5 separate regions of the Homo sapiens genome follow, and all the other regions are reported to be linked to region 1. Evidence: microRNA targets listed by miRTarBase, many of them from high-throughput screens and not tested one by one. Region 1 holds a microRNA gene; each other region holds the end of a gene's coding sequence.
The links. The annotated mature microRNA hsa-miR-3174 reads UAGUGAGUUAGAGAUGCAGAGCC and lies in region 1 at 2,618-2,640, shown strand. An mRNA with a match to its seed (bases 2 to 7 or 8) in the 3' UTR can be bound and repressed. Matches are read on the target gene's strand: a 7mer-m8 pairs with bases 2 to 8, a 7mer-A1 pairs with bases 2 to 7 and ends in A, and an 8mer does both.

Region 1 (6,053 bases):
TTTTAGGCTCACTGTCTAGAGACAAGGAGACAGACAAGGTCTGGAATGGTTTTTGAGTTGGAGGAAGGGAGACTAATGGGACCACCAGAGATTTTGCACTTCTATTTTAGGTTTGCCTTGTGGCCCAGAGATATTTCTAGCAGAGTTGTGTTTGGAAAGAAGCACAACTTCTTTCTAGAAGGGAGTAAATAAATAAATAAAGGAGGAGTCCAGCGCATCTTGGAGGAGACAAGTGAAGTCAGCTCCCTGGCCCCACCAGTGCTGATGCTTGGCGCAGGCTCATAATCTGGCTTGCTGACCCCTCCCATACCCTCGTTCCTCAGGCCTAGCCAGGGCCTAGCCCGCGGCAGGACTCATTATGTTGAAATAAGGAATCTGTGAATGTGCTGGGCCTGCTGTTAATGGTGCTTGCTCCCAGCCCTTTGACTTCAAAGCTGGAAGAAGGCCTTAGAGATTGTCTGAAAGCAACTGAGGCAGGAAGAAAGCTCTGTACCCAGGATTACACAGTAAGTGGCAGAGCCAGCACTCAACCTGAGCTTTCAGAGCCTGTTCCCAGTGCTGTTTCTACAAGGCCACTGTCTCTGCTACTGCTGGGGATCCCGAATCAAGCTCACTTCAAAGAATGTAGCTATGAGAGCATGAAACCGTGCGCTCACGCCGCACACGAGTTGGGTAAATGGAGCGCCTCATTTTCCAGATGTGTTACAGAAACTGTGCTGGAGGATGTGACTGGCCAGTGAGACAACTAGGGGGAACTGGGTGATTCAGGCTGTTTCAACACTGACTTCTTCAAAGTCCAACAATCAGAGAAGCAGTTTAGTCATCGGGATTTTCTCACATCACACCATTTTTTGATCTGGAATGCTTTCTTCATACTTTGACTTGTATGTGATTTATTTAGGATTGGTCAGGAGAGAAGAGAAGGAGTGTAAGGACCCAAGACCTGAACTGATTTCCATCTGTGGGTTAAATGTACTAGAACGTTTGTGAGGGTAGACGTCTTTGCTTTGTTCATTGCGGAGCCCCTGTGCCTAGAATAGGGTCTGATCTATAGTGGGCCCTCAGTAGATACTTGCTGAATGAATGTACTGGACATTAGGGAAGATTTGCCTGCCAGAAGGAACCCATGAATGACACAGGCAGGGACAGGGAGGTGATTGATGGGAGCTGCAGAGTTGTGCTGTGAGTCATTGCTTCAAACAAGCTCCAGACAGGTGAGGCAGGAGGGGGCTGGGAAGAGAGGATCCTGAATGGGGTGGAGCCCCTGGGTGGAGACTTGTGCAAAACAATAGGTTTTTTTAGATTTTTTTTTTCTTTTTTTGAGACGGAGTCTCACTCTTTCACCAGGCTGGAGTGCAGTGGCGCGATCTCAGCTCACTGCAACCTTCGCCTCCTGGCTTCAAGCGATTCTCCTGCCTCAGCCTCCTGAGTAGCTGGGACTACAGGCATGCGCCACTACACCCAGCCTAATTTTTATATTTTTAGTAGAGACGGGGTTTCACCAGGTTGGCCAGGATGGTCTCGATCTCTTCACCTCGTGATCTGCCCGCCTCGGCCTCCCAAAGTGCTGGGATTACAGGCGTGAGCCACTGCACCCGGCCTAAAACAATAGGTTTTGAATTGGACTCAGAATATAGGGAGAATAATAATAATCATGTGTCTTAGGCCAGAATTATGCTACGTGCTTTGTGTATTTGTCTCTCTTAGTTCTTGCAGGTGCTGGCTCTTGCATTCTTATCCTCATTTGGCAGAGGAGTTAAATAACTTGTCCAAGGGCACAGAGCTGGTATCTAAACCCAGGCTGTCTAACTTCAAACTTTGCCTCTCAGGAACGATGATGTGGTCATATGTCTCTGCCCATGCCAAAGAGTTGGGCGTTCAGCACTTTGGGGTTCCTTGGAAGGACAGCAGCAGAAAAACTAAAGAAGAAATTGTGGGTCTGCAGCAGAGGGAGGCTGGTCAGGGAGTGTGCCTGAAGAGGGTTCACCCAGTGAGGCCTATAAGGGAATGCTTATTTTAGGGGCCTAACTGTTCCTCAAGCAGAGTGGCTGTTGTGAGATTAGGGCTATTTTGCACTTGATAAAGATGTAGGAGATCTTTTTATGGGCAAAGATTGCTTTTCAGGTTAAAGTTTAGTTGGCATATATTTGAAACTAGTGGGAATTTTAAAACTAAGAAATGTCCTTTTTGGCCTTGATACCACCAGAGGCTGTTTGCCACATGTGTAAACATTACCTGCCTGCTCCAGGATGCTGGCCCAGCCTGTTCCAGACCACAGCAGCTCCTCATTCATTGGCAGTCTGTGATGTGCTAGACACTGTGCAGGTCCCGTCCTCGTGAAGCTTGCAGTCTCCCTGGGAGGCAGGCATTAAACTAATAATTACACAAATACTCTTTAATTACAGTGGTTATAAATGCTTCAAAGGAAAAAGTACAGAGGCATAGAAGCCAGTAATCATGGAGAGGGGGAGGGGAGGCTTTCCTGAAGAAAGGACATTTAAATAGCCACCTGCAGTGTGGATGAAGAGGCTTTAACCAGGGTGGTACAGTTCATTAACCTTGATGTGAACCTTGCCACTCCATATGTGGTCCATGGACCAGCATCAGCGTTACCTGGTAGTGAGTTAGAGATGCAGAGCCCTGGGCTCCTCAGCAAACCTACTGGATCTGCATTTTAATTCACATGCATGGTAATGTCTGTAAAGCACTGATGGACTCAAAAGTACTGAAATGACAGGTTCTCAGCTTTGCTGGGAGCTCATTGGGTGACGCTGGGAAAGTCACCCTGGGGTGACTTCTCTGATGTTTGGCTTTTTCCAGTTTGTGCTGTCTACCTGCTTGTTGAGGGTGACCCACCCCTGTGTTGCTGTTGATGGAGACCCTGCAGACTCTAGTCCATGCTCTGGTCTGACTTCTGTAAGCACTGAAGATGGGCTGAACCATCAGAGCTTTTGATAAGGATCAGAATAATTCCCTAAAAGTGTGTGGAGCTGCACACAGAGATTGTCTTAAGGTGACCCTGGGAGGATTTGGCCTGAAGCAAGAGAAAAACTGGCAAGGGTCAAAAGGGCTTTGGGGAGGAAAGGTGTAACGTTTCTGCCAAAAGCGGAACCTAAAACGGGGAGAGAGAGGCACCTGCTCAATAGTTCCATGCATGGGAACATAATACTTTTAAGAATTGCCTCAGAGTTTTATCCCTGAGACCTTCACATCACTGTAGAGAAGACCAGACGGTTGAAATCAGGGGTCCTGGACTCTTGCAGTGTGTGGGTGGGCTTCAAGGGTCAGGGGTACTTGAAACTGTGCAGAAGGTTACATGTGTGCACTTTTCTGGGAAGAGGAGCCGTAGCTTTCACTGGCCTCAAGGGAGATTGCGGCTCTAAGAATTTGTCAAATGTCTTACTGGACTAACCTCACCCAACTCTCTTGTTATACAGCACATGCGATATGCCAGGCATAATTGTAAACACTTTATACATACTGTTAGCTCATTTAGGTTGAATACCTTTCTGGAGGTCACAGATCTAGTAAGCCTCAGAGCCAGGATTAGAACCCAGGCACTGGGGTCCCAGAGTCGCTGGTTGCAAAGCCTACCCTAGTAACAGGGCAAGCAGGACTAGGGGCGAGCTCTTTTTTGGTAGCACAGATGAAGAGGCTCACCCCCACCCCCACTTTACAAGTAAGCATCTCCCCAGTTGTTCATGTAAAACATAGAAAGCATTTTCCCAAGGAAGCACCTTGTGAATAGCTCCAGGTTGCCAGGCTAGCCCATGAAAGCCTGTATCACTGTTGGGCCCAACTCATGCTTGTTTGCAAAGAAAGTAATTAGAAAACAAAACTGCTGCCGCACCAAAGGCTAAATTAAAAATTCTAGAATTGGAAAGAAGGCACTTGAAGAATTGCACCCTTAAATCAGGGAGGTAAGGTGGCAACAGGAAATTGGGGTAGATTCTGAAAGGGAGGGATTAAAGGATGTTACAGCCAAAGCACAGCCAAATATATGTTGAATCAGCAGCTTCAAAAGGTAAAACAACTGTTTTTTATTACCTACTAATTAATGTGTATGGCTCACAGACCTGACCCTTCCCCCATCCCTAGTGCCTACCCCAAGTACAGAGGCCTTTTGTCTTTTCTCTCATTCATTTTGTGTTGTTTGAATTTTTATCCAGTATGTATTATCTTTATTATATACATGTAGTATATATATATGTATAGTACATATGTGTATATATATGTATATGTGTATATATGTATATAGTATACGTGTGTGTGTGTGTGTGTATATATATATATACATATATATATATGTATATATATATACATGAAGTAAAAGAACTATTAGAAGTGGGTTGGAGGCCGGGCACAGTGGCTCATGCCTGTAATCACAGGACTTTGGGAGGCCCAGGCAGGAGGATTGCTTGAGCCCAGGAGTTTGAGAACAGCCTGGGCAACATAGTGAGACCCTGTCTCTACAAAAAAGTTTTATAAATCAGTCGGTGGCACGTGTAGCTGTAGTCCCAGCTACTTAAGAGACTGAGGTGGGAGGATCGCTTGAGCCCAGGAGGTTGAGGCTGCAGTGAGCTATGATGGCCTCAGTGTACTCCAGCCTGAAAACCCTGTCTCAAAAAAAAAAAGAAAAGAAGTGGGTTGGTCTCTTTCGCAATCACCATTGTAAAGGATTTTCTGATATTAAATACATATGCTCTATTGTGTGTTTATTTCTGGGAGAACTAAGAAAACTGTTGGAAATGTGAGGATTTTTAGTGTAGTCGGAAGCTGAGAATAAGTGATCATATTGCGACCCAACTATTTTCCCTTTCTTCTTTCCCTGCCCCCAGCATGTTATATATATGGAATCGAAATGAAGTTAGAATGGTCACTACAGAAAGCAGGAATGTCCACCCTCCGCATTTAAATGGGAAACTATAACTTTTGTGATAACTCTTGGTTATGTGTGTTTTTGTCTTCTGGATGGTACCTGAAATGCCATCCCGGACCCCATCCCGTTCTCGGTGGGACTGCAAGGATATGGGCTTCCAGACTGGGAAGACTGTCCTGCATGTGTTTGGTAAAAGACAACGGCTAAAACCTGGGGCACATCAGAATGTCCTCGCAAGGACCAAGTCCAAGCTGGCCCCTTGAGAAGCATCAGGTACCCTTTGGAAGCTGGTAGTGCTGGTCAGTTTAATCTCACTCTGTGATGTCCGATCCTCGGGCCCTGGGCTCACAAGCCATCGCTTCCCATCGTGGCTCCATTCTGTAGCTGCAAATCACAAGACTGTAGACTTGCCATTACCCAGAAGCAGGTCACCTCTGAAATTCAGAACTCTTCCTGTCCTCCCACTACACAGCACTCCTTGAAGCAGCCCTGCCCACCCCTGCCCCAACCTGGGAAATCTGTGCCCACTTCCCTGGTCCATTCCCCATGTGCCCACCATCAGCCCCACTGCTTGTTCCTCTGTGTCCTGCCCTGGCTTCCTCCCTAGGTCTGGGCACCCCACATCCTCCTATGCCTTAATTCTCTACCTACAGCTACAGTCACACCTCTCTCTCCCTCCCCAACCCCAACCTGTGTCACTTCTCTTTACCCTAGGATTTCACAAAGAAGAGTCCACTCTGTCCCCACTTCCTCTCTCCCCCTCTTCTCCTTGCCAGCTCAACAACAGTGGAGCGTTTCAGCCCAGCCCACTCTCACTCCAGCTGGCTCTCCTAGAGGTCCCTGGCCACCTACTCATGCCCAGTGGCCCATCTTGTGTGACTTCCTCTTACCTGACTGCCCGGTGGCCCATCTTGTGACTTCCTCTTACCTGACTTCTCCATAGCAGTTATTGTCATGAATAGTCTTCTCCACCTTGGGTCTGGCTCATCACTCTGGGTCCTTTTCCTACCTCTCTCATCTGTTTTTTTGTACCATTCTTTCCTGTTGCTATGCTTTGGTGCCTTGGCCACAGTTCATTGCTACTTGCTTACCTACCATGACTGTGGTTTCAGCCTGTATAGGACTCTTGGCCTATGATCCCTGTCCTCATGTCTCCTGTAGACAGCCTAGGGCT
Region 2 (6,053 bases), not on the chromosome of region 1:
TTCACCATGTTGGCCAGGGTGGTCTTGATTTCCTGACCTCATGATCCGCCCACCTCAGCCTCCCAAAGTGCTGGGATTACAGGCGTGAGCCACCAAGCCCGGCCATAGACATTTGTATGTCATTCCCTTAATTTGTTTCCCAGACAGAAGCTCAGAGCCTGATATCTGTCACACCTAATCCTGACTCCCAGTTCCCCCTATACCACACTATCTTTCAAATACTGACTGCTCACTTAGTACTAGGTGCATGGCCTGCAGGAGGAGGTGGGAACACTGGGAACAAGATCTGATTCTTGACTAGAGAGCCGAAAGAAACCATAAATCAAACACTACAGGAACTCAGAGGGAAAGGAGCCCCATTCTGGCTGGGGTTTTGTGGGAAAGGAGAGATTTGTGAGTTTTTGTGTTGAGAAGACTGGGATGGGTTGGATCTCTGTTTCTAAATCTGTTAAAAAGACCACCACCCATCACTTCATGAGTCCTACCCTGTCTTGTGGAATCAGAATTACTGAATGGAGCCCAGGCATTTTTTAAAAAAGTTCCCTTGGTAATTCTGTTCCTTAGCAAGTCTTGGGAAGTGCCTTCCAGATAGAGGAAATAGTTGGAGAAATATGGAAGTCAGCATAAGACATATGTGGAGAGCAGAGTGTAATCTGATTATTGATTTTAGCTGGAGTTGAGAGTGGGTTAGGGAATATTGGGAGAGATAAGGCTGTAAGGGTGATTTGAGCTGGCCTGTAGAAGGCCTTAGCTGCCAGGCCTGGGTGTGTGGACTTTATTTGGTAAATAAAGGGCAAGTGTGGAAGAGTTTTGTGTAGGTGATAAGCATGCTTTCTTGGGGCAGGGCAGGGGAGACTGGAGGGTGGGTGAGTGGTCAGAGGCGGGGACCCCCTTGTTAGGAGGTTATGCATAATCTCAGTTGCAATATCTGAATTACTGGGGTGGTAATGGTGGGCCTGGGAAGGAAGGGAGCAGAGCACAAGGCTTTTCAAAGGAAAGGCATGTTGGATTTGCAAGGGATTGGTTGGGCAGGGTGGAAGACAGAGCTAGATCTTACTGTTTACTAACGAGGCACAAAGTGTTGGGTGAAGGACTATGGTTGGCAGATAGGATGCTACTGGGAGACCACCTTGGATTCATCTTTGTTTCCTCTCTAGGCCATGGCACTTGCATCTAGTCAGTTGCCTGTAGCTGGGTCAAGGTGAGGTAGGGGGCCAGATCTCCATCACCAGAAGTGGCCTATGGGAGACAGTAAAACTTCTGGGGTTGGGGCCTTGGAGAGTCCCAAATGGTTGCTGTGGTTTTTACTTTTATTTTTGTAGATTTGGGGGATACCAATACAGTTTTGCTACATAGATATATTGCATAGTGGTGAAGTCTAGGCTTTTAATGTAACCATGATCCAAACAGTGAACATTGTACCCAGTAGGTAATTTTTCAACCCTCTCTCGGTTGCTGTGGTTTTGGAGACAGGTTCATGGTGAAGCTGGCTGAAGAGACAGATGGGATAATTGTCTCCAATGACCAGTTCCGGGACCTGGCGGAGGAGTCTGAGAAGTGGATGGCAATCATCAGAGAACGGTGAGGGAGCCCTCCCGCTGAGAACTGGGCACAGATGCAGATGTTTTTCTAAAGCCAGCTCTGCTCTGGCCATGGGGTGAAAACTCTGGGAAGGAGGTGAAGTTTTCTTGAAGGATGGAGCCAGCAGCTTCTGGTGATACTGGTCTCGGTTGTCTGGGAGGTGGGCAAGGGCCCCCTCTGTGACCACACATTATCTTTCGCCATCCAGCCTGCTGCCCTTTACCTTTGTGGGAAACCTCTTCATGGTACCTGATGACCCACTGGGGCGAAACGGCCCCACCCTGGATGAATTTCTGAAGAAGCCAGCCAGGTAATCAATCCCCTAGACTACTTACAGGCAGCCCCCACCCCTGGCCCTCTCTCAGCAGGCCCAGAGACTTGGGTGGAAGTGTGACCTCAGTTTGGGCCAGCTTAATTTTGCAGTGGTTTGAGTTGCATTGGCCTTGGCCTTTATAAGCTTCCCAGGGGATCCTGACATAGAACCTCCTTGCTGGGAGGGAAACACCTGCTTCCTGTTTCTCTTAATCAGCATGTTTGATGGAGTTATTTGGAAAATGGTTGCTTATACTGACAGCCAGTTGTATTCAGCATGCCTTCTGCTGACCATTACATAAGTGATTCATTTAGGACTAGAACTAGATCATAATAGTGGCAGAGTTCACCCTGTTTCTAAAAGAACGGCCCATCTTCCCTTCAGAAGTGGGTTGATACTGCCACTCAGTGGTCAGCTTCAGGAACTTCAGGATTTCTCCCCCAAAGCCAGGAATAGGCAGGACAATTACGAGAGGGGTGCCCACTAAGATCTAATTTCCCCCCCAGGATGCTCATCAGCTCTTTTTGGTCTGTTTCTTCCCAGGACACAGGGGTCTTCTAAGGCTCAGCATCCTTCCAGGGGCTTTGCAGAACATGGTAAACAGCAGCAGGGGAGAGAAGAGGAAAAAGGTAGTGGTGGCATTCGGAAGACCCGGGAAACAGAGCGGCTCCGGCGGCAGCTGCTGGAGGTGTTTTGGGGTCAGGATCACAAAGTGGACTTCATCCTGCAGCGGGAGCCATACTGCCGGGACATCAACCAACTGTCTGAGGCCCTGCTCAGTCTTAACTTTTGAGCCTCACCTGCTTGAGTGGCTGCCGCCCTGTCAGCTCCAGCCGCCTCCAGCTCAGCCCTTTCTGTGAGAGTCCCTCTGCTGCTCACTCTGATCCAGAGGCACCCTGAGTTGGTGCTTTGGATCAGGGAAGCCACTTTGGGACAGGTCCATAAAGTGAACTGATCTTACCGAGTCAGGACCTCAGCCAGCTCTCAAGAGGTTCTGCTCAGCCTTAACTTCTCAACTTTGCCTTAGCACAGGGTTTCTGTAGGGAGTGGGGGCTGCTAGAGGGGATTAGTTCCGGAGACTGAGACTGTTGGCTCCACCTCCAAGCTGAGCTAGGGTGGAGGGCAGGGTGGGCAGGAAGTGACAGGAAGTTAAGCTGTTCCTCTCCCTGGCTGCTGCTCTGGATGGCCAGAGAACAAGATGCTCCCTTGCTGAGCTCCTGGGAGCGTGGAAGGAGATGCTAGGCCCTGGCACAGTGTTATGTGGACTGGGCCACGATAGGGTGGAGTGAGCTAGTGAAGAAGGCAGAGGGAGACTTGGCTTCTGGTCTCAGCTATGCCTGTTTTGTGACCTTGATTGAGTTGCTTGGGCTTTACTTCTGCCTACAAATCAGGGGTAAAAATACCTGTTGGGAGGAGAAATGAGAACATAGAGGAAAGCCTCTTGGAGGAAAGGTGCTTGGACCAAGTCTCAGGTGTGTCTGCCTGTGGCTGCACAGGCTCTCTAACCGAAACCTCACTTTCAGAGAGATGTGGGTCCTTTGTCTCCAGGATCCACACCCTAGATTTTAACACTGCATTCTCACTATAACGTGCCCTATAATGGCTGCATCCCTTTTGAGCAACCTCCAAAATCTACATTTACACAGTAGGTAAATTAGGGATGACTGCATTATCAAAATACTCTCAGGGTTCCTATAAATGGCAGCTCTCCTGTTGTATTCAGGTGTTGTTTACAGACTAACAAATGTGTTGGCAAATCCCTGGTTAGATGCACTTCCTGGTGTTGAGATGAACACGTCGATTTTTCACCAATCGATGAAGCCATGCTCTGCAATGACAATATTAATGTGATCCGACCCTAACATTTTCTCTATGGAAGACGTATGTTGCATAAAGCAAGGCACACTTCTGCTTTATGTGTGTGTGTATGGGGATGGGAGGACTTAACGGAAGTTGAACCAGTTGGTTCTAGATGAACCAATTATCTGGAAAATGAAAGAACCAGAGTTGGAAGGCACTTGACTGGCCACCAGACCAACTCTGCTGTTACTGACATGCTTTCTTCACCCTGATTCCTAGAGGTCATTGCCCTGGATCTGCTTGAAGTCCTCCTGTGCCAGGGAATTTACTATCTCCAGGGTAGCACATTCCCTGTGTAGACGGTATTAATCAGTACTCCTTACTTTAGTGCAGCCTAAAGTATGCTTTTCTGTTACATCCACCTTTGAGGCTGGTCATACCTCCAGGAACAATACAGAGCCAGTCAACTTCCTGGAATCCAAGACCAGATAAAGAAGTAGGACAGGTGCCCCTGGGTTCTGTTCTGTGTGGGCCTGTGGGGAGTCTCTAGACAAGATCTTTTCCAGGCCCTGACTTCTGCCTCCCTCTGAGTGGCACAGGGAGTTGAATACTGCATGGCGAGTGTAATGATGATGGGGAGGGTCCTTGTGTCCTCACCCCTTCCTTTTTGGTGATTTACACCACTGTACCATACTGACCCAGGCTGGGGGCAGGTGTGTTGGAGACAGGCTGGTCAAAGAGGTGACAATGATTAAGAGATAACCCAGCGGTCCCTGAGAAGAGATTGGTTAGTATGGCCTGAACTGGTGGCTGGGGGAACTGTGTCTGGTCAAGTTATGGCAGATGTCACAGCTTTAGGTAGGTAAAAAGGGTCCTAGATGAAAACCTTGGAGTTTTTTTTTTTCCTGATAGGGTTGTTTATACTTCTTGATTGGTTTCTTGCCATTTTCACTTTCAGTGATGGTGGGTGTGCAGTAGACCAAAAGTGTCTTCTGCCCTTTTGTGCTAAGGGCCCTGGTTGACTGAGTGGCCCCAGTCAGATGAGAGGCAAGTCCTAAGCTTCTTATAGACAGGGATGTTGACTTTGTTCTGCTGCAGCCTGATAAACTGGGACCACTGTGTGGTTAGTAATGCACTTGCCATTTGGTGACACAGACTGAAGGCTATCCTACACCTGGGCCTTACCTCTTCCTCTACTGGCATCCTAATGGCACTCTGACAGCATCCAGGGTGACTACAGGGCCCATTGGAAATGGATCATCATTCTCTCTTCTAGTGTCTATCTTTATCATAACCTGATGTCCCAAACTTGTGACAAGTTCTTTTGGCAACTGAAGGACCAAGAAGGGAAACGGTGATGAGAGAGACTGCTCATTGTAACTTTCAAAACCCCGTCTTTGGGGAAGAATCATCTAGGGTGACATTCCTTGAAGTAAATCCCAGGAGAATCTAGGCCAAAGAGATGAGCCAAGGTTAGTGAGACAATTTATTTTTATTGCCTAAACTGCAGAGCATTCTCTACACAGCGTAAAGGAGAAGTGGGGCAGCTGCAGGACATGTAGAGAAACCAAACTGGGAAATCTTACAAGGAGTTGAAAAGATTAATGTCCCAACCTGATGAGATTACGGCCTTGAGACAATAAGGTGGAGCAACAGAACAATGGGAAAGAGGACTGGGAGAGGAATCTAAGAACCAGATGGCTTCAGCTCTCTAGAGGAGCTGAGCCTATTCACAGTGCCTAACCTGGAAGCCTGTGAGGAACAGGCCTCAGGCCCTTGCCACGACCTACTTAGGCTACAATTTCCTTTAAGGCAGCCCCTAGCTCTGGGAAGGAATACTGGTAGCCAGTGGCCAGTGTTCGCTGTGGGATCACCTTCTGGCCCTCCAGCAGCATGATGGCACGCTGTCGCCCAAAGACAGCTTGCACCACAGCGCTGGGGAGAGGGATGAAGGCTCGGCGGCCCAGGGCAGCACCCAAGGTCTGGGCAAACTCAGCATTAGTGGCGGAGGATGGAGCCACTCCATTCAGGACCCCGTGCACGTGGTTTGCTTCAAGGGCATGGGTCAGGATTCCTGCCAGGTCCCCGATGTGTATCCAGGGGAAGAATTGGTGGCCTGAGCCGATGGGGCCCCCCAGGCCCAGGCGAAAGGGCAGCAGCATGTGGCCCATGGCACCACCCCCACGGCCCAGCACAACCCCTAGAGCAGGAAAGAGGGAAGGTACAGGGGTCCTCTCAGCCTTGAAGGAGCCCACTGCTCCTCCTGGTTTCTGTTTCCCCTTCCTCACTCTCCCCATGCTGACTTGGCTCTGTAACAGAAGTGAGCAGTATGGCTGTCTTTAAGACCTCACACCTTCTC
Region 3 (6,053 bases), not on the chromosome of region 1:
CCTGGGAGCTTCCCTCTAAGGAAGCAATGGCCACACTGTCTTGTCATGGTTTGCTTGTCTGTGCCCCCCTACCAGGTTCTGAGCCCCTCTAGGACAACTTAGTATCACTGGCACCTAGCGTGCTTGGCATATAGTAAACAGTCAGAAATGTTAATGGGATGAACAGCCTCAAAAGAGGGCTGGAGGTACACAGTCACAGCCATTCCTGAAGAAATATAGTGTGACATTGCCCACACAGGTGTTTGAAAACAACCCTTTGAGTCTAAGACAGAAAGCGGGTTGAAGGGATTTTTTTCCAGTCCAGTAAACCTGTGACTTTGAATTGGGAAATACTACTAAGGTCAACGGGCAAGGGGCCAGTGCAGAGTGCTGTGATAAACTGAGAATGCTAAGGACGTGATGGCATTCATTGTCCAAATCCATATTATACCCCAAGGCCAGGATGGAGCCGGGGCAGGTGCGGCTGCAGGCATTGAGCACTGGCATCCCCTCAGGGGTGCAGCAGCTGCTCCCCTCCCAGATGGTTTCTGAGCATCAGTTCCTCCTCTGCACCAGAATGTTTAGCAATGTCCTGGGTGGATGAACAAGGAGCTGAATGAAGAGTCTCTGTTCTCTGGTTGTCATGAGTGTGTGGTGATGGGGAAGGGAGCCCAGGAATGAACTCATCTGAACTACAGACATAACCTGCCTTGGGCGAGATAAGGCAAAGAGTCCACCTGTGCTCTAGGCCTTCCTTCTTAAGCCCTCCTTGAAATCCAGTCAGCATGGCTGTTTTTCCCAGGTGTCTGACCCTGCCCCCAAGATCATAGACCTATGCTGTCCAGGATGGCAGCCGCTAGCCACGTGTAGCTACTGAGCACTTGAATCGTGGCTGGCATGGCCAAGCGCAGTTGCCCATGCCTATAATCCCAGCACTTTGGGAAGCTGGCGGGTCACTTGAGGCCAGGAGTTCAAGACCAGCCTGGCCAGTATGGTGAAACCCCATCTTTACTAAAATATAAAAAAAATTAGCTGGGCATGGTGGCACATGCCTGTCATCCCAGCTACTCAGGTGGCTGAAGCATGAGAATTACTTGAACTCGGGAGGTGTAAGTTGCAGTGAGCCAAGATCATACCACTGTATTCCAGCCTGGATGACAGAGCAAGACTCCATCTCAAAAAAAAAAAAAAAAAAAAAAGAAAAAAGAAATATGGCAGACATAGCTGAGCTAGTATACCTTTAATTTTATTTCATTGCAATGAATTTAAATAGTCACATGTGGCTATTGGTACCATATTGAACCATATTGAACAGTGTACACACACTTACACACACACATACACACAGTTTTTGCCCTAGTGGCTACTATAGAGGTTTTTGATCCCTCCTTTCCCAACAAACACTGGATTTAACTCAAAGGTCCATTCTTCCTTAGGTTTTTGCTATTTCCCCCCTTTTCCTTTAAGAAGCCATTGATGGACCTCATTGATGGAAAGTTCTGTAAGTGTTGCCAAGGAACATCAGTATATTTTTCCTGTAGCTGGCACCTTTGAGGGAGTCTGGTCTCCAAGGCCATCTGTTTTGCAAGCAAGGGTGAGACAGCCACATTCCTCATCCTCAGACCTATGACTCTACCATGGCGAAGGCGGTGACCAGGGAGGGCTGGGACATTTGTGTCACAGAAAGAGTCCCTGCATTGATCATTTCTGAGTGATGTCTGAGTGGGGGTAATACCTAATGTTAAGAGAGTAACCATCTGACTACATCAAGACTTTTCATTTTCAAAGTATTTTATTTAAATAAATTTTTCTTTTGTGTGTGTTTGAATTTTACAGAAAAAAATACTGACAAATACTATACAGCTTGGACCCTTTATATTTTTCTTGGAAAGGTGGCTGCCATTTTTCTACCTTTCTCCCTCCCTGCTCCCCCCAAGAAAAAGAAACATGGAATCCATTGAGCAATGGGGAAAGGAGCAATGGGGAAAGGCCTCCTCTGGCTGCCGTCCGGAGCCTGGCTAAAGCTGCTCAGAAGTCCAGGCCTAGGGGATGTCTTTCTCGAGCCTGTGCTGGTCTAGGAAGCCTCTTCTTTAGGAATCATTTTTTTGTCCCCCGTGAACTTACCCTCCCCAGATGAGTCAAGCAGTCTCTGGTCCTGAGGTCCCATGGGTTGCCAGTGGCAGTTCAGGGACAGAGGCTGGAAGGAGTGAAAATGGAGAGGAATAAAGGGCTGGGGCTGGTCTGGTGCAGGCAGAAGAGGGAATCAGAGAAGCATAAAACATGGAGAAAAAGATGAGAAGGAAGTGGAAAGAAGAGAGTGGATATCAACAATGGCCTTAGGCTCCTTTCATGCACCTGTTTATTTAACAAAACGTTTAGGGCCTATCCTGCACTGGGACTCCTCTAGTTACGCCAGGAAAGGTTGTCAGGGGAGTCTGTGATGGGGAAAAGAGAGGCCCCATTCTGGGTTTGGCTCTTCTGAGTCATCGGCTGTGGAAGTGACTGAGAAGTGAGTTTCTGGGTGTTTCATCCCTGGGGTGAGAGCAAGTCCATTGGATTAGGAGACAGCAGGGACATTGTGCCTGGAGATAGAGGCCTTGTCATGGCAATGACAACTGACTGCTGTCTTAATTCAAAGGAGCAAGCAGTTGCCATGGAAACCATGTTACTTGTATGGTCCCGGATCCCGGTGATCCGCCCTCCTAGATCATATCTGACACTACGTCTCAGCTGTCAGCCTCCACCTCTCCCCAGCCATCCATTCTAGGGGGACTGAGAGGTGGAGACAGGAAGGGCAGCTTGTCCTGGTGAGCAGTGGCAGTTGTGGGGAGATGTCTTCCACATCCCTGGGTTTGGTGCAGGCAGATGGCAAGTCATTCTGTTATGTGAAGGGCACAGCCAGAGGCCCCATGACAAACTCTCTATGTGACAAGGGGATAGAGAACCAGAGTGCTTCTTTCTCTGGTCAAAGGGGTTGATGAGTGGGAGGCCTGAGTGCTTAGGCAGTTTATGGCCATATAGGGTGAGAGGGCAAATGTGACTGGCTATAAAATATATGCAGGTTTAAATTATGATTCACAGGGTCATCTGTTAGAAAACCCTGGTGCAAGGGTCACCACTAAATGCCCACCCTCCACAGGCCTAAAGTACACCTGGAGGGCAGGTGAGTACCAAGCAGCCCAAGTGAGCAAATAGAATATATCTTTCCTTTAATGCAATCTTATAGAATTTAGTTTTTTGCTACTATAAATATCATAGTTTAGCTACATTATTAATTAGATAGCAATTTTGCCACTGTGTAGAATAGCTTCCTTGGGAAAATATTTCAAGAGAGCTGCCCAGCATATTTGTAAATAAACTTCTAGAGCATAACTTGCTCCCAAGGAGTGAATTGTCCATCTTTGTAATACAGTCACAATACAATAAAAATACCAAGCAGTTCATCCTATAAGTGGATTAACTCTGCTTCCCAACCTCACTCTGGCGGGGAAAGCCCTCCTCAGCTCACTGTGGATCTAATTTACATGTCCTCACATACCTCAAGGCACATGTGTCACCTACATGTGCTCTCCAGCATTAAACACCCAATTTCATCCATTGCAGCAATTAGTGGGCTCACTTAGAAGAGAAGATCACTCGGGGAGAACTGGTGAGGTATTACAAGCTTACCCTTAACAACATCACATATCCAACAGTAACCACAGTTAGTTATAAGTACCTACTGTGTGCAAGGCACTTGCCTGAGCTTCAATATAAATATAAATAAACCTCTTTATAGCTTCATCCTACTTTCATTTAAACTCTGTTACCTCTGCATCCCACCTGTGCCATACCGTGCACACATCACAACCTTATGACATCACTTCCAGTGTTGCCTTCTGTGAGACTGCACTGATGATTGTCTAGTTCCTTCCCTGCTGGAAACTTTGGTTATATAGGAGATACCTAGCTCAGGTGTAGCATCTCCTCACCCTTTCCATCTGTAAACATTGCACAGGTACACAGTTGCAGTCCACTGACATAAATGAGTGGGCTTCCATAATTTTCTAGCAGTCACCACCAAGAGCTCTTTGTTCTTGCTTGGAGAAAGGCACTTTGCTGAGTGGTTTGCGGGGGTAATGTTTCACAGAGAGGTCTTGGATCACATTAAACACCTCTCAGTGGCAATGAGGACGGACTTTGTCATGAGTTACAAGAAAAGAGCTTTCAATGAATTTTGAACCATCACACTTTAAACATCTTGGCACAGGTGAGGGGTCAGAGGCACAGAAACTTGGTGTGTCTGTATCAAGACACACAAGGGTGGGGACTGTAGCAGGTTGCTGGAATGTCCAATTATGAGTACTTCCAGTAAAAGTTTATGTGTAGAGTTAGAAATAGGAAAGCATGCATCTGTAACCTGAGTGGTTTATGGAATAGATGGTGTATGGGGGCCTTGCTGGTTAGGAAATTGTATATATGTGTCTGAATCTGGCAAGGCTTTCCCATGAGACATTTTTGTGACTGTAGATAATGTACTTCCCTGCACAAAGTACATAGCCAATGACCATTTGATGAGCAGAATATACTTGCCCACGTACCTGCTACCTGAATTTGTGTGTGTGTGTGTTACGTGCATGTGCACACACTTGGGAACCATATTGAGATGTATGGATAAATGTTCTTTGTGCTTTGCATGTGGGGTATGCCAGAGACAGGTGGGAGGCATGCCTGGGTCTGCAGTAAGGAGCATTGCTATTGGACACATAGCTGCCAAGACAGTATCCAAGAATTGTCCACGTGGTCCCTGGGACTGCCCTCCACTGGGACACTTAGTCTGAGGTTTGTTCCTTGGTTGAGTAGTTACTCTGTGGACATGGACATAGTGCATTATTTCAGGGGTTCCTGAAATGTCTGTGTGTGGTCAGAAGGAGGCTTAGCCCCAGAAAGGAAACACCTCTGCTTCCTGCCTAACTAAACAGGCAGTGATGGTCTCTTCTCCATCTGGAGAAGCTTGGGTTGAGCAGAGATCCAGAGGTCTTCTTCATCCTTCTTCTTCTTCTTCTTCTTCTTCTTCTTGTTCTTCTCTGGCTGCTGGCCCCTCTTGCCTGGTGGGCTCCAGCAGCAATGGCAACAGATGAAGAGGAGTGTGATGATCACCAAGAGTGGCAGGCCCAGGAGGACTCCCAGGCAGATGGTGTTGTAGATGCCTTCTTGGTGTTTGGTCAAGATGGTGTCCCAGATAGAGCTGAAGAAGGCACTGATTCTCTCCATGGTGCTTGGCTAGATTAGGGCCAGAGAACCCTCTCGGCTTACAAGCAGGTCCTGGGCTCAAAAGGATGCAACCTTGACCACTTGTAATTTATTCCTCTTCCAGCTTTGGGTTTGGGCATGCCACTGGCAGCACCTGAAGAGATTAAAACAGACAACTGAAGAGAAATGCAGGGGGACTGGTCTACAATTTTAATAGTGTCATAGATTTTAGGCTTAGGAAAGGGGAAGGAATTGAAGATTTCCAGGGTTCAGTAAACTTGTATTGACTCAATAAACAAGATAAATGCATGCATGTAATCAATAAGCATCAACTAATTCTTGCTATGTACACACATTATATTGGGCTTAGGATATAAAAATGAATAGTATATCAGGTCTGGCACGTAGGAAGTTCTCAGTAGTTGTTGGATAAATGAATCAATGTGTGTGTTCAGTGTTCTGATAAGGGGTTGCTTCCCTGGACCCTTCTGCAACAGCAGTTCTCAATCTTTTTTCCACTGTAGCTCACCTGACAGATGTTGAACACACACTCCCCACAGGACAGGTCTGTATGTAACCTTTTATTAACATAACTTGCCATTTTCAAAGCTTATTGAAGCTTAAGCACAAAGTGAGATGTCTACTTCTTGCTGTCTGTAGTAGGGAACCTGGGTCTCCTCTGGGCTAAGAGGTCATCAGTCCTCATCCTGCCCCATGCCTGCTTTCCGTGCTGTCCCCTCATGATCTCTTCCCTGCTCCATGTCTCCTCCCCTCCTTATATCACATTCCTGTGCCTGAGAAGTCCTCTCCTCCCAAGGCTGAGAGAACCAGGGGTGACCATT
Region 4 (6,053 bases), not on the chromosome of region 1:
TATAGATGATGGAAGACATGGGACGTGAATTTCTTTTGCTGGCTTTCTCATTCCTCCTATTCTATCACTTAAAGCATTTACCTGCCAGCCCCCAACATCCCAGATCTCTCCCCACTACCCTTGGAGAGCTCATTTCTTCTCCTGGCTCCAAATCTTGCCCCTGTAGACACCTATCCCTTATCTCTGTCTGCCACTTAGATATAGCACCATCACCTTCAACTTAGTAGGTTGAGAATTGAAGCTCTCTCCCAGGAGAGCACCAGTTCCACGTCACCAACTGGGTGTTAGTGATGCTGCTAAGTTTTCTAGTCACTCAGGTTTGTGACCTTGGACTTGCTGCCTCCTTTTTGGTCCCTCTGACATGTCTCCTCTTTCCTCCTTCCCTGCCCACTCCTCCATCCCATTCTTTACATCACTCCTAGGCAAACCTTTCTTTGACCTGACACTGCTTTCACTACATTCTTTCTTTCCCTGCTCAAACTTTCCCATACCCAACTGGCTCCTCCATGTAGTTGTCAAGGCCACCATGATCTTATCTCATCCTACCAGTTCAAATGGGCTTTTCCACTACTGCTCAAAATAGTAATAAAACCACCAGCCACACATTACAAATGAGCTTTGCACTCATCTCAATTAATCCTCACAAAGCTAACTGGAAGCCAAAAAGGCAAACATTGTCCATATTTTACAGGCTGAAATACTGTGACAGGCACAGGGTCACATAGTAAAAACTGCCTGGAGTATCCAGATCTAGAACCCAAATCTTCATTACTTGTCTGGGGCAAACTTCACTGTAACCTGGATATATGCCTTCCTCGCCTTGGATTCAGCAAATCCGTAGGAGGGTCTGCTCCTGAAAGGCTGTTTAATGTTTCAATGGGTTAAAAGAATAAGAATTTCTGCCCTCCTTTATACTTTTTTTTTTTTTTTTTTTGAGACAGTGTCTCTCTTCTGTCGCCCAGGCTGGGGTGCTGTAGCATGATCTCAGCTCACTGTAACCTCCACCTCCTGGGTTCAAGCGATTCTCCTGCCTCAGCCTGCCGAGTAGTTGGGATTACAGGAGGCTGCCACCACATCCAGCTAACTTTTGTATTTTTAGTAGAGATGGGGTTTCATCATGTTGCCCAGGCTGGTCTCAAACTCCTGACTTCAAGTGATCTACCCATCTTGACTTCCCAAAGTGCTGGGATTACATGAGCCACCACGCCCACCCTATACTCTTAATAGGTAAATAATCATTACTACTTGAATGAAGGCCACAGTAAATGAGGCAGGAGTACAAACAGTAGGCCAGGTAGACCAACAGCAGTGAAGCACCTTATGAACACAATCTGTAGGGGGTTCAGTAAGGGACTTGATATTATGTATTTTCCGAGCACAGACAGCATTTGAAAACGGCACGGAAGGTTCAATTCCTACAGACCATGGTAGAAGGGAGGGTGTTCCTGCCCAAAGAAACCGCATGTACATGTCCATCCCACTGCCTTTCCAGGCTCTCATGCAGTATTCCTAGACAAATCCAGAACTGATTCCTTGCCCCTGAACCTCTACTGTACTTTTATATCAAAGTTTAAAAGGATTCCTGTTCATCTTGCTGTTTCACAAGTCACTCTTGTAGTCCCAACTCGATTTTAAGATTTTTTTTTTTTTTTTTTTGAGACAGGGTCTTGCTCTGTCGCCCAAGCTGGAGTGCAGTGGCACAATCTCGGCTCAACTGCAGCCTCTGCCTCCTGGGTTCCAGCGATTCTCCTGCCTCAGCCTCCCGGGTAGCTGGTATTACAGGCACACGCCCGCACGCCCAGCTAATTTTTTTGTATTTTTAGTAAAGATGGGGTTTCACTATGTTGGCCAGGCTGGTCTCGAACTCCTGACCTCAGGTGATCCGCCCACCTTGGCCTCCCAAAGTGCTGGGATTACAGGCGTGAGCCATGGAGCCCGGCCTGATTTTAAGCTCTTTAAAGCCAAGAATGCGGTCATGCTTCCATTCTCTCCAAAACGTGATGGGGATCTGATGACAGCTTTTGCCCAAACTGTGGAAATAGTTCTGAGTTTCCAAAGTAAGCTTCATATCTTTCACTATGTTTTGATCACTAAGACTTAACCTAAAGAAGTCAATGAGTGACAGCAGCTTTCTCCCCATCCAGATATTTGCTATACAGGGATGGTCTTTCCCTTCTGGTCCAGAGTCCCAGTCTGGTTTAACAAGATCAGAATGTGTAGGGGAACGCATTCTCATACATTGCTATGAGAGTATAGTTAAGCACAATTTCTATGGACGAAGATATCAAAACTCAAAATGATCTGCTCCTTGATCCAGCATCCCATAACTCTAGCAGCCCATTTGCAACACAGTAAAACAAAGAACATTTTCTTCAATCGGGCACTGATTAAATCACAGTGGATCTCTGAGACATAGTAACTAGAAAAGCAAGGTACAGAACAGTATGCATAGTGTCCTGTCCATGCCCAAAATATTTCTGGAAGAGCGCACAAGGAAATGGTGATAGTGATGGCCTCAGGGAAGGGGAAAAGGGTGGCTGGGGAACAGGGGTGGGAGACTAGCTTTTTACTGTTAAGTTTTGAACCATGTGCATGTATAATTTTTTTAAAGAATTATGCAACAAATAACTTCTTTAAAAGTCTTCAGCCCCAGTACGGTCGCTCAGGCCTGTAATCCCAGCACTTTGGGCGGCTGAGGCAGGAGGATCGCTTGAGGCCAGGAGTTTGAGACCAGGCCAGCCTGGGCAACATAGCAAGACTCCATCTCTACAAAAAAAAACAAACAAAAAAAATGTTAAAGAGCCAGGCGTGGTGGCACATGCCTATAGTCCTAGCTATTCGGGAAGTGAGCCAGGATGGCTTCAGCCCAGGAGTTAAGACTGCGGCAGGGTATGCACCACTGCACCCAGCCTGGGTAACACAGTGAGACCCCCATCTCCTAAAACAAAATTAAAAAAAAAAAAAATTAAGGCCAGGCATGGTGGCTAACACCCGTAATCCCAGCATTTTGGGAGGTTGAGATGGGTGGATCACTTGAGGCCAGCAGTTTGAGATCAGCCTGGGCAACATGGTTAAAAGCCCGTTTCTACTAAAAATACAAAAATTAGCCGGGCGTCATAGCATACACCTGTAATCCCAGCTACTTGGGAGGCTGAGGCAGAAGAACTGCTTGAACCTGGGAGGCGGAGGTTGCAGTGGGCCAAGATGGCTCCACTGTACTCCAGCCTGGGAAACAAAGTGATACTCCATCGCAAAAAAAAAAAAAAAAAAAAAAAAAAAATTAAAAATCTACAGAGGAGGAAAACAAACAAAAATAGCAAAAATGGGACATCAATCCAGACATGAAGGAAAAAAACATTTTTTAAATATTCATCATTGTGGCAAAAAAAACCTGCCCTTAAAAAACCAGAAACCTAAGGTTTAAAGAGATGAGTGACCCCTCAATTGTTCCTCTGAGAATAGACTGTGTCTTTCACCTGCTTTTTAAGTCCTCTTCCCAAGGTCTGGCCCGATGTTTGGTCTCAATGGTTGTGTAATGTCTCTGAATGGATGAAATTTACTTCCCTACGGAAAAGTAAAGCATTCTCCAAATGCAAGCAGTTGTGAAACAGTGATAAAGGTCGAGGGGGAAGCAGCATGGCTGAGAGCTGCTTTTGCCTAATGTATTCATTCACCTGCATGAACCAAGCACCCACGTGCATGGATGTGTACTATATACAGACTGTGAGATGTGGACCTGCCTCACAGTGTACCAGGAGAGATGAGAGCATACACAAAGAATCACTGGGTAGAAAATCTACATGAGTTTTAAAATAGGGAATTTCTGAAGCAGCTTACTACTAACAGCTAAAAACCACTGGCTTGACCACATATACAAAGGCTGCAATCTCAGAGGGATATTTCATGTATTTAGTAAAACCTGGGGAAACGAGGAAGGCAGGGAAGTTGATAAGGACTTGTAGGCACACTTTGGCCCCAGGGAGGCAGGTGGATGCTGGTGGAGAGCATCACCTAAATTAGCTGCCTCCTTTCTTGGCAATCCTGTTATCTACACCATATGAATCCAGTCTTTAGCTGGATATAACCATTCGTTCACTCATTCATTCAACAAGTATTTACTGAACAGCCTAGTCTGTGCAGGCCTATGTTAACTGTCTCCAGCACACTCAATCCATGACATTAAAGTTACAGTTTTGGTCTTTGTGTATCAGCAATGACAGGTCCTCACTCTTACCACAAAGCGCAAGTCAGCTTGGCCTCTCAAGTGGAGAGATAATCGTTCTATAGCAAGAAGTACAAAGATTCTCTGCAGACAAAACCAGCTAGCCAAGGTTCCACAACATGTGTACACGTATAAGTCTGATGGATCAGAAGAAATATGTACCCGGGAATCAGATGTAGCCAGCCCACATACTAACAAACATCAAAGCAAGCCTAGTCAGATTGAGTCCCATTTGAACAATCTTTATAAAGGTTTCTTCATGTTATTTACAATTCAAAGTAAATTTACTTTATAAGCAGCTAGGGAATTCTTTATTTAGTAATGTCCTAACATAAAAGTTCACATAACTGCTTCTGTCAAACCATGATACTGAGCTTTGTGACAACCCAGAAATAACTAAGAGAAGGCAAACATAATACCTTAGAGATCAAGAAACATTTACACAGTTCAACTGTTTAAAAATAGCTCAACATTCAGCCAGTGAGTAGAGTGTGAATGCCAGCATACACAGTATACAGGTCCTTCAGGGAGGCAAGAGACCTTTCGACTGGTCTGCAGGTGCCTCCAAATGCTGGTCCTGTGGAACTTCTTTCTGAGTCTCGTTTTCTTCCAACGCAGTCTGTGGTCTGACACTCAAGTGTTCGGATTTCCGGGAAACGTGACTACCTCCGTGTTGCTTAAAAGACCAGATTTAAGTATCACAGAGATGTTATCATTTTCACTCAATTAATTCGCTAAAGATATATAACTAGGCACATTCTGTCACTGAGTGAAAAATTTAGCACTAATATCTTAGATCCAATTCTACTATAACAAATAGTAAACATGATTTTAAAAAGTCTATAGGGCCGGGCGTGGTGGCTCACGCCTGTAATCCCAGCACTTTGGGAGGCTGAGGCGGGCGGATCACGAGGTCAGGAGATCAAGACCATCCTGGCTAACACGGTGAAACCCCGTCTCTTCTAAAGCTACAAAAAATTAGCTGAGCATGGTGGCAGGCGCCTGTGGTCCCAGCTACTCGGGAGGCTGAGGCAGGAGAATGGCATGAACCTAGGAGGCAGAGCTTGCAGTGAGCCAAGACTGCGCCACTGCACTCCAGCCTGGGTGACAGAGCGAGACTCCGTCTCAAAAAAAAAAAAAAAAGTCTATAGAACCAAATTTCAAAAGCCCTAATGACGACTCACTTGTTTCAAGTAGCAGTCATTACCACAAAATTCTAGTATATTCAGTGTAACAGTATTTGACCTGGAGTTTAAGAACATAAGCCAAGGTTAGGGAAAGAAAACCAAGTCTCTCTTTAACTTCCATCAGATTGGCAACTCTGGTCAACCCTCTGCATCTACAGGTTCCACATATGCAGATTCAACAAACCACGGATCAAAAATATTTTAACAATAAATAAATAAAATAAAAAATATAAATTTTTAAAAATAGAGTATAACTACTTACATAGCATTTACAATGTGTTATGTATTATAAATGATTTAGAGATGATTAAAGTATATGGGAGGATATGTGTAGGTTATATGCAAAAACCACAGCACTTTATAAAAGGTATTTCAGCATCTGTGAATATTGGTATCTGCAGGGGCCCTAGCACCAATCCCCTGTGCATACTGAGGGACAACTATAAACCCAGTAACAATTTTAACAATGAAATACTCACAGTCCTTGCTTCGCCTACTCGTCTTAAAATGACACCTTCTGCCAATAAAGCCTTCCCTGTTTCCACAAATAACTTCTCTTCATCTGTTTCTCCAAGTTTCTGTAGCTCAGTGTACTTCTCCACAAACCTGTAATTCCAAGCAGTCACATTTTAGGTATGTTTGTA
Region 5 (5,900 bases), not on the chromosome of region 1:
ATAGGGCTTCCAAATCAGACAAGTCTCAGTCTGGTGGAGCCGCCCCTTTTATTCAAGGCTATAGTGTTAGCAACGGCTAATAGGCTTTATCTGTCCACTTAACCATCCGTTTATCAGCAAATGTGCAGTGGTTATTTGCAAAGGGATGGGTGGGTCTGACTGTCCTAGAGCAGGGATCTCCAACTCTTGGGCTGTGGACCAGTACCTGTCCGTGGCCTGTTAGGAACTGGGCCACACTGCAGCAGGTGAGCAGTGGGCAAATGAGCATTCCCGCCTGAGCTCTGCCTCCTGTCAGATCAGCGGCGGCATTAGATTCTCACAGGAGTGTGAACCCTATTGTGAACTGTGCATGTGAGGGATCTAGGTTGCACGCTCCTTATGAGAATCAAACTCATGCCTGATGGTCTGAGGTGGAACAGTTTCATCCTGAAACCACCCCACCACCTCTCCGTGGAAAAAGTGTCTTCCACAAAACCGGTCCCTGGTGACAAAAAGGTTGGTGACTGCTGATAGGTCTGGCTTCAAGGGTGGACAATTTAAGGTGTATCTCTGGCTGGAACCCTAGCAGTCTGAGGTCCTCAGGAAGGGTGTCCTGTGGCTAGCTGCCTCTCCAGTGAGCCCCGGGCGCTTCTCACCTACAGATTAAGGACCTGAAGCTGAAGGTGATGGACCTCCGTGGGAAGTTCAAGCGCCCGCCCCTGCGTCGAGTCCGTGTCTCGGCTGACGCCATGCTCCGGGCCCTGCTGGGCTCCAAGCACAAGGTGTCCATGGATCTGCGGGCCAACCTCAAGTCTGTGAAGAAGGAAGACACAGAGAAGGTGAGGTCCCTTTCCTCAGAACATTCCACCCTCTGCCCTACCAGCTTTCCCCTTGTCAACCCCTCACATGGCCTCAGGCTGGCCCAGGAGCTCCTGTTGGAGACCAGTCAGCTTGACAGACAGAACATTCTAGAATGCTTTGGGAGACCAGTGTGGGAAGAAAGAAAGAAGATTTGCTCCCTTCCTTCAGGCTGTTCCCAGTCTGACGAAGAAACTAGGACATAAAGAAAGCTAGACCCCAGACGGAGAAATGAAGTAAAAATCTTGTTCCCAGTGTGAAGATAATGTGGAGATTTAGGGTAATGGTGGAGATGACTGCCTGGTCACCACAGGGAAAGGAGACAGCAGCTCATCTTGGTTATAGCCACACACGAGCATAGACATTAGAGAACTGAGTTCAACCACCCAGCAACAAATTATTCAAAGTTGGTTGAATTCACAGTATATGTGCCCCAAATTGATAGGCTCTGTAAGGAACAGGGATGAAGGAACAGTCTCTGGCCCAAGAAGCTTCAGAGGAGAAGAGATAAGCCAGACAATATACTGAGGAAATGGAAAAGCAGCCGCATTTGCAGGGGAAGACTTCTTGGAAGAGGTGGCCTTGAGCCTGCTGAGTGCCAGACCAGGAGGGTGGCATGGAGCCTTGGAGGAGGTTTTGCTGAGGTGCACTGAGGTGGGAACTAGCCCCATAGCTGCCACTTTCACCCAGTGCTCCCAAGCCACACAGCTTCCTTTTTCCTGTGGGGCCTCGGCTTGGCCTGTGTCCACCTGCCTGGCTGAGTCCTAGGACCTTACCAGCTGGGGAGGGGCATCAGGATTTCTTATCATCCGAGGAGACTGGTTTCCTATCACCCAGCTTCTCTTGAGCTGGGGGGCCGTCCAGCCTGGTAAGTCCCTGATGTGTGTGCCACTTGTCTACAGGAGCGGCCTGTGGAGGTGGGTGACTGGAGGAAGAACGTGGAGGCCATGTCTGGCATGGAAGGCCGGAAGAAGATGTTTGATGCCGCCAAGTCTCCGACCTCACAATAGAGGTACCTAGAGACCAGCTCCCTTCTCTGGGGTCCATCAGAGTCTAGAGGATAATGAGGGAGTCCACAATGGGCAGGCGGGTTGTACTTAGTGTGGTGCACGGATGCACGGACTAAGGCACCGATGAGACTGATTTGAGTCGGCTCTCCTGGGCTCAGTCCTGGCTCCAGCACCATGATACTTGGGCATGTCATTTCTGTTTGGCGGCCCTTTTTGTTCCCATTATCTATGAAATTGGGGGCTGTATCAAATCAGTGGTTCTCCAAGTGTGGTCCTGGGACCAGCAGCGTCTACATCACCTGGGATGCAAATGATCAGCCCCCACCCCAGATCCACTAAATTGGAAACTCTGGGGTGAGGCCAGCCTTCTAGGTGATTCTGATGCACATGAGAGTTTGAGAACCACTAGGTTAGAGGGTCCCTGGGATCCCTTCATCTCTGACTTTCTGAGAATCTATGCACTTTTAAATACCTCCTGGTGATGTCCTTTATTTGTGCTCCCTGCGAAGTACCCAGCACTCACAGTACCTGTTCCCAAGGAGCTACCACTCACAGAAGCTAAGACTTCCCACCATCTGAGGAAATAGCTGGAGAAACTGGGCAAAGCAAGGAAATCAGGCCACGTAAAACCCTCTACGGAAGTGCTGAGAGAATGTGCAATAGGGCAGGCATCCACCAGACAGCACTGGTCAGAGCAGGCTTTCTGGAGAGGAGGAGCTCTCTGAGGATGCGACGAGCGAGTGTTAGCTGATAAAGGGAAGGGCATGTTGAAGGGCTGATGGTGCAACAGAAGCATGGAGGTGGGAATTAAGCAGCCACAGAGTAGCATGGCAAGGCTAGGTAAGAGCTGAGGGCCGCAGTGTGGAGGAGCGGTGTGAGGGGTCCCAAAAGGGGAGCAACTGTGCCCGAGGGCCGAGAAGCTGAGGTTTTGTAGGAGCCCTTATGAATGAAGATCCAGTCCGGGGTGCGCTAGGGCTGAGAAGCCCTGGGGACTGCATGTGCTGTAGGTAAGTCAGGGATTCATGCGCTGCACACAGGTCCCCGGGAACTGATGGCTTTGCCTCTTTGTCCCTACAGGCCAGCTTGCTGTGCTGCGCTCTGAGCTCCTGCTTCATGCTTCTTCTCCAACCCAGCTCACTCACCTCTCTGCCTGTGTCTGGAGCATCCCTTCCCACCTCTCCCCCACTTCTTCCCTCCAGCCTGCATGCCCTCCTCTGGAACTGGGATTAAACAGATACCCAAGAGGCAGGAAAAACGCGAGTGTCTGAAGACCTCACCCTGGCAGGGTGGGCTTCTATCCACCCATGAGGCACCTGGGGCTTCTCAGCCACCCCGTGGTGTAACAAGTGGAGGAGGAGGAGGGGGTGAGAACACCTTTCCTCCAGCCCTGTGCCACACTCCTTCTATGTGTGTACAGTGTCCACAGGCATCACACCTTCTTCATTAAAAACCCAGTTTCCTGGTCATTTCTGCAGCTCTGACTGTGAGCCCTGAGAAGAAAGGGAAGACTTGGGGCTTGGGAAGAGAGGGCTGTGCTGGGCTCCAGTCACCCTGTCTGCAGTCCGGAGCTCGGGATCTGAAGGGAGGGCTAAGGAATTGGTGGCTGCTTGCCAGGGTCCCCTGGGGCCCCTTCTGCCCAGTCCCTGTGACGTCACACTGCACACACTCACCACCCAGGATGCTCAGCTCACCAGAGCCCTGACCTCCGAGAAATGACCCCGTCCTGCCCCTGACTCTGGCCATCAGAAGAGGCCTCTCCATTAAGAGCCGCTTCTCCTGCCGGCTTTCATACTCTCCTTCCTCTGCAAACCTGGATTAACTCTCCCTGATGTGTGCTGGGTTGAGAGGTCAGGGCACTTTCAATCCCTCACCTAGTCCTGCTGCACAGGGCAGGAGGCCTCACAGAAGAGATACTTGCAGTTCCAGGCCTGGCCACCAGGTGACGCCTTCCTTCTCTCCTGGGCTCTCCTGTCCCTCCGGCCTCTGCTCTCCCCACGTTCACCCACCCTCCTCCCAATTGTTTCCCCTTCACACTCCTGCACTGGTCCTATCCCCCAGGACTGATTCTTTCCCGGAGATGGGGTGGCCACTTATCTGTCCTCTGGATCAGGTCCTTTCTCCATCCCACTACCTCCTGGGTCCAAAGCCTGGTGAGAGCATAGGGCCTTCTGGGGTGGAAGGGGGGTCTGGGGCAGCCTCTCTTCCCCCAACATACTCACTAGAGTGGCTCCTGTGAAGCAGAGACCAAAGTTCTGACTTTTCTTTTTCCTTTTTTTTTTTTTTTTGAGATGGAGTCTCGCTGTGTCACCCAGGCTGGAGTGCAGTGACGCGATCTCGACTCACTGCAACCTCCGCCTCCCAGGTTCAAGCGATTCTCCTGCTTCAACCTCCTGAGTAGCTGGGATTACAGGTGCGTGCCACCACACCCCGCTAATTTTTGTATTTTTAGTAGAGACAGGGTTTCACCATGTTGGTCAGGCTGGTCTCGAACTCCTGACCTCGTAATCTGCCCACCTCGGCCTCCCAAAGTTCTGGGATTACAGGTGTGAGCGACCACATCCGGTCAAGTTCTGACTTTTCAGGGCAGTGGGATGGTGACTTCTGAGCTAAGCCTGCAAGGGAAGTGGCTGTTCCCAGACCTGGGGTCCCTTGGCTTTTCGACCACCCTAGCACTGGCCCTAGGAGGGGCTGAGTTATCAGAGCAGCAACCCTTCTACCCACCCTACTGAGTCCCCATTCTACCTTCGAATCCCATGTATTATCTTCCATAAGTGCCAGAAATTGGTACAAAGTGCAGTGCCAGCTGCTCCCCAGGGCATGGTCTGGCTCTCTGGGCTGCTGGGCTGCCAGCCCCTTTCAGAAAGCATGGCAGTGGGAACCAGCAACTTGGGCTACCTTAGGGGAAGCAGCACTCTGCCCAGGGTTCTTGCTATAAATAGGTCAGTGGGCAGAGAGGCAGATGTGTGCAAAAAGCACAACCCCAATCACACACAGAAACCCGTAGGCACGGACACACCCAGTCTCAATGCACGAAGTTGGAGAACCTGACAGGGCTGGTCCAGGCCACAGAGGATGGGGTTAGGCTTCATGCCTTCATGCCCAGGCAGCCACAGAAACCCACTCTTCCCCGCCTCACAGGGCTCCTCCGGTTGGCCTGGATCCAAAGCGATCTCCTTGTTTCACCTCTTTCCAGCTCTTCCCTAGAGCCTGGCCCCAAGTTCCAGAGTCAAATCCCAGTTTTGCAGTCAACTATTAACCTGGGGCCCTGGCAGATTGGGGTATCCACCCAGTCATGTAAAGGCAGGAGACCTGCTCTGGGCCTGACTCAAAGCAAACACGTGGGTGCAGAAGACCCATGGGAGGAGGAGGTGGGGCCCACTCAACACACCTAAGCCAGTGGCCCTCTAGGAGGGGCAGAAGAGCCAACCAGAGGGTTCCTGGAGGTCATCGGGTTCCTCCTTCTGCTTCCAGGCAGCAACAGACCTAATTCATCTCCTGTGAGGATGGAGCAAGGGCGAATATAGGCATAGACATATCTGGAGCGCAAGGATTGAGAGGCCCTGTGGACAAGGGGAAGGAGAGCTTGGGGGTGGGAGAGGGATCTATGGAAGGGGCTGTTGTAGCCAAGAATGGGGCCTGGGCTGGGGGCCTGGCCTCTGGAGAGCCCTGATTCTACTCCAGTCTTCTCTCACCATGGAGACAACACCAGTAGAGCTGGGAGCTGGGGCCTGCCACTGAGTAACAGCTCACACATGTAGCACACTTATGCGTCAGGCACCAGCATGTACACCTTAATTTATTTAACTTTCACAACAACCCTAGGAGAAAGGTACAGCTACTATTCTCATGGTACAGTGGGGAAAACTGAGGCACAGAGAGGTTAGGGACTTTTCATGATCACACAGCTAATAAGTGGTGGTCCCAGGATTCAACCCAAGAAGTCTGTTAGAATCCATACTCTTATCGACTATTTTAATAACAGCATTTCAATAATAGTAATATGTGATGTTAAATGCTTTATCTGAGTTATATCATTGCATTCTCACAAAAATG

Region 2: the mRNA of SDR39U1 is a reported target of hsa-miR-3174. Seed matches in the 3' UTR shown: 7mer-A1 at 5,169-5,175.
Region 3: miRTarBase lists KIAA0040 as a target of hsa-miR-3174. Seed matches in the 3' UTR shown: 7mer-m8 at 2,488-2,494.
Region 4: miRTarBase lists MRPS23 as a target of hsa-miR-3174. Seed matches in the 3' UTR shown: 7mer-m8 at 4,702-4,708.
Region 5: miRTarBase lists TNNI1 as a target of hsa-miR-3174. Seed matches in the 3' UTR shown: 8mer at 4,061-4,068 and 7mer-m8 at 4,185-4,191.

The regions. Positions count from the first base shown.
Region 1 is chr15:90,004,147-90,010,199 of GRCh38, forward strand. It overlaps MIR3174 (microRNA 3174), which reads left to right and starts at 2,609; the gene lies at 2,609-2,695. The region is part of intron 1 of ZNF710 (zinc finger protein 710); the gene reads left to right.
Region 2 is chr14:24,434,599-24,440,651 of GRCh38, forward strand. SDR39U1 (short chain dehydrogenase/reductase family 39U member 1) reads right to left here. Exons shown (of 6, transcript NM_020195.3): 6 at 5,168-5,894. The coding sequence ends at 5,485. It overlaps KHNYN (KH and NYN domain containing), which reads left to right. Exons shown (of 8, transcript NM_015299.3): 6 at 1,474-1,581; 7 at 1,790-1,891; 8 at 2,438-6,053. The coding sequence ends at 2,687. Among named protein-coding and RNA genes, the nearest start is that of SDR39U1, 5.2 kb to the right of the region's middle.
Region 3 is chr1:175,155,782-175,161,834 of GRCh38, forward strand. KIAA0040 reads right to left here. Exons shown (of 4, transcript NM_014656.3): 4 at 1,205-5,365. The coding sequence starts at 5,232. The coding sequence ends at 4,933. Among named protein-coding and RNA genes, the nearest start is that of KIAA0040, 34 kb to the right of the region's middle.
Region 4 is chr17:57,835,038-57,841,090 of GRCh38, forward strand. MRPS23 (mitochondrial ribosomal protein S23) reads right to left here. Exons shown (of 5, transcript NM_016070.4): 4 at 5,889-6,015; 5 at 1-4,898. The coding sequence ends at 4,746. Among named protein-coding and RNA genes, the nearest start is that of MRPS23, 12 kb to the right of the region's middle.
Region 5 is chr1:201,406,275-201,412,174 of GRCh38, reverse strand. It overlaps TNNI1 (troponin I1, slow skeletal type), which reads left to right. Exons shown (of 9, transcript NM_003281.4): 7 at 642-818; 8 at 1,740-1,849; 9 at 2,925-5,900. The coding sequence ends at 1,847. It overlaps LOC101929343 (a long non-coding RNA gene), which reads right to left. Exons shown (of 2, transcript XR_241172.3): 2 at 5,806-5,900. Among named protein-coding and RNA genes, the nearest start is that of LAD1, 9.9 kb to the right of the region's middle. RefSeq lists an enhancer at 3,824-3,903.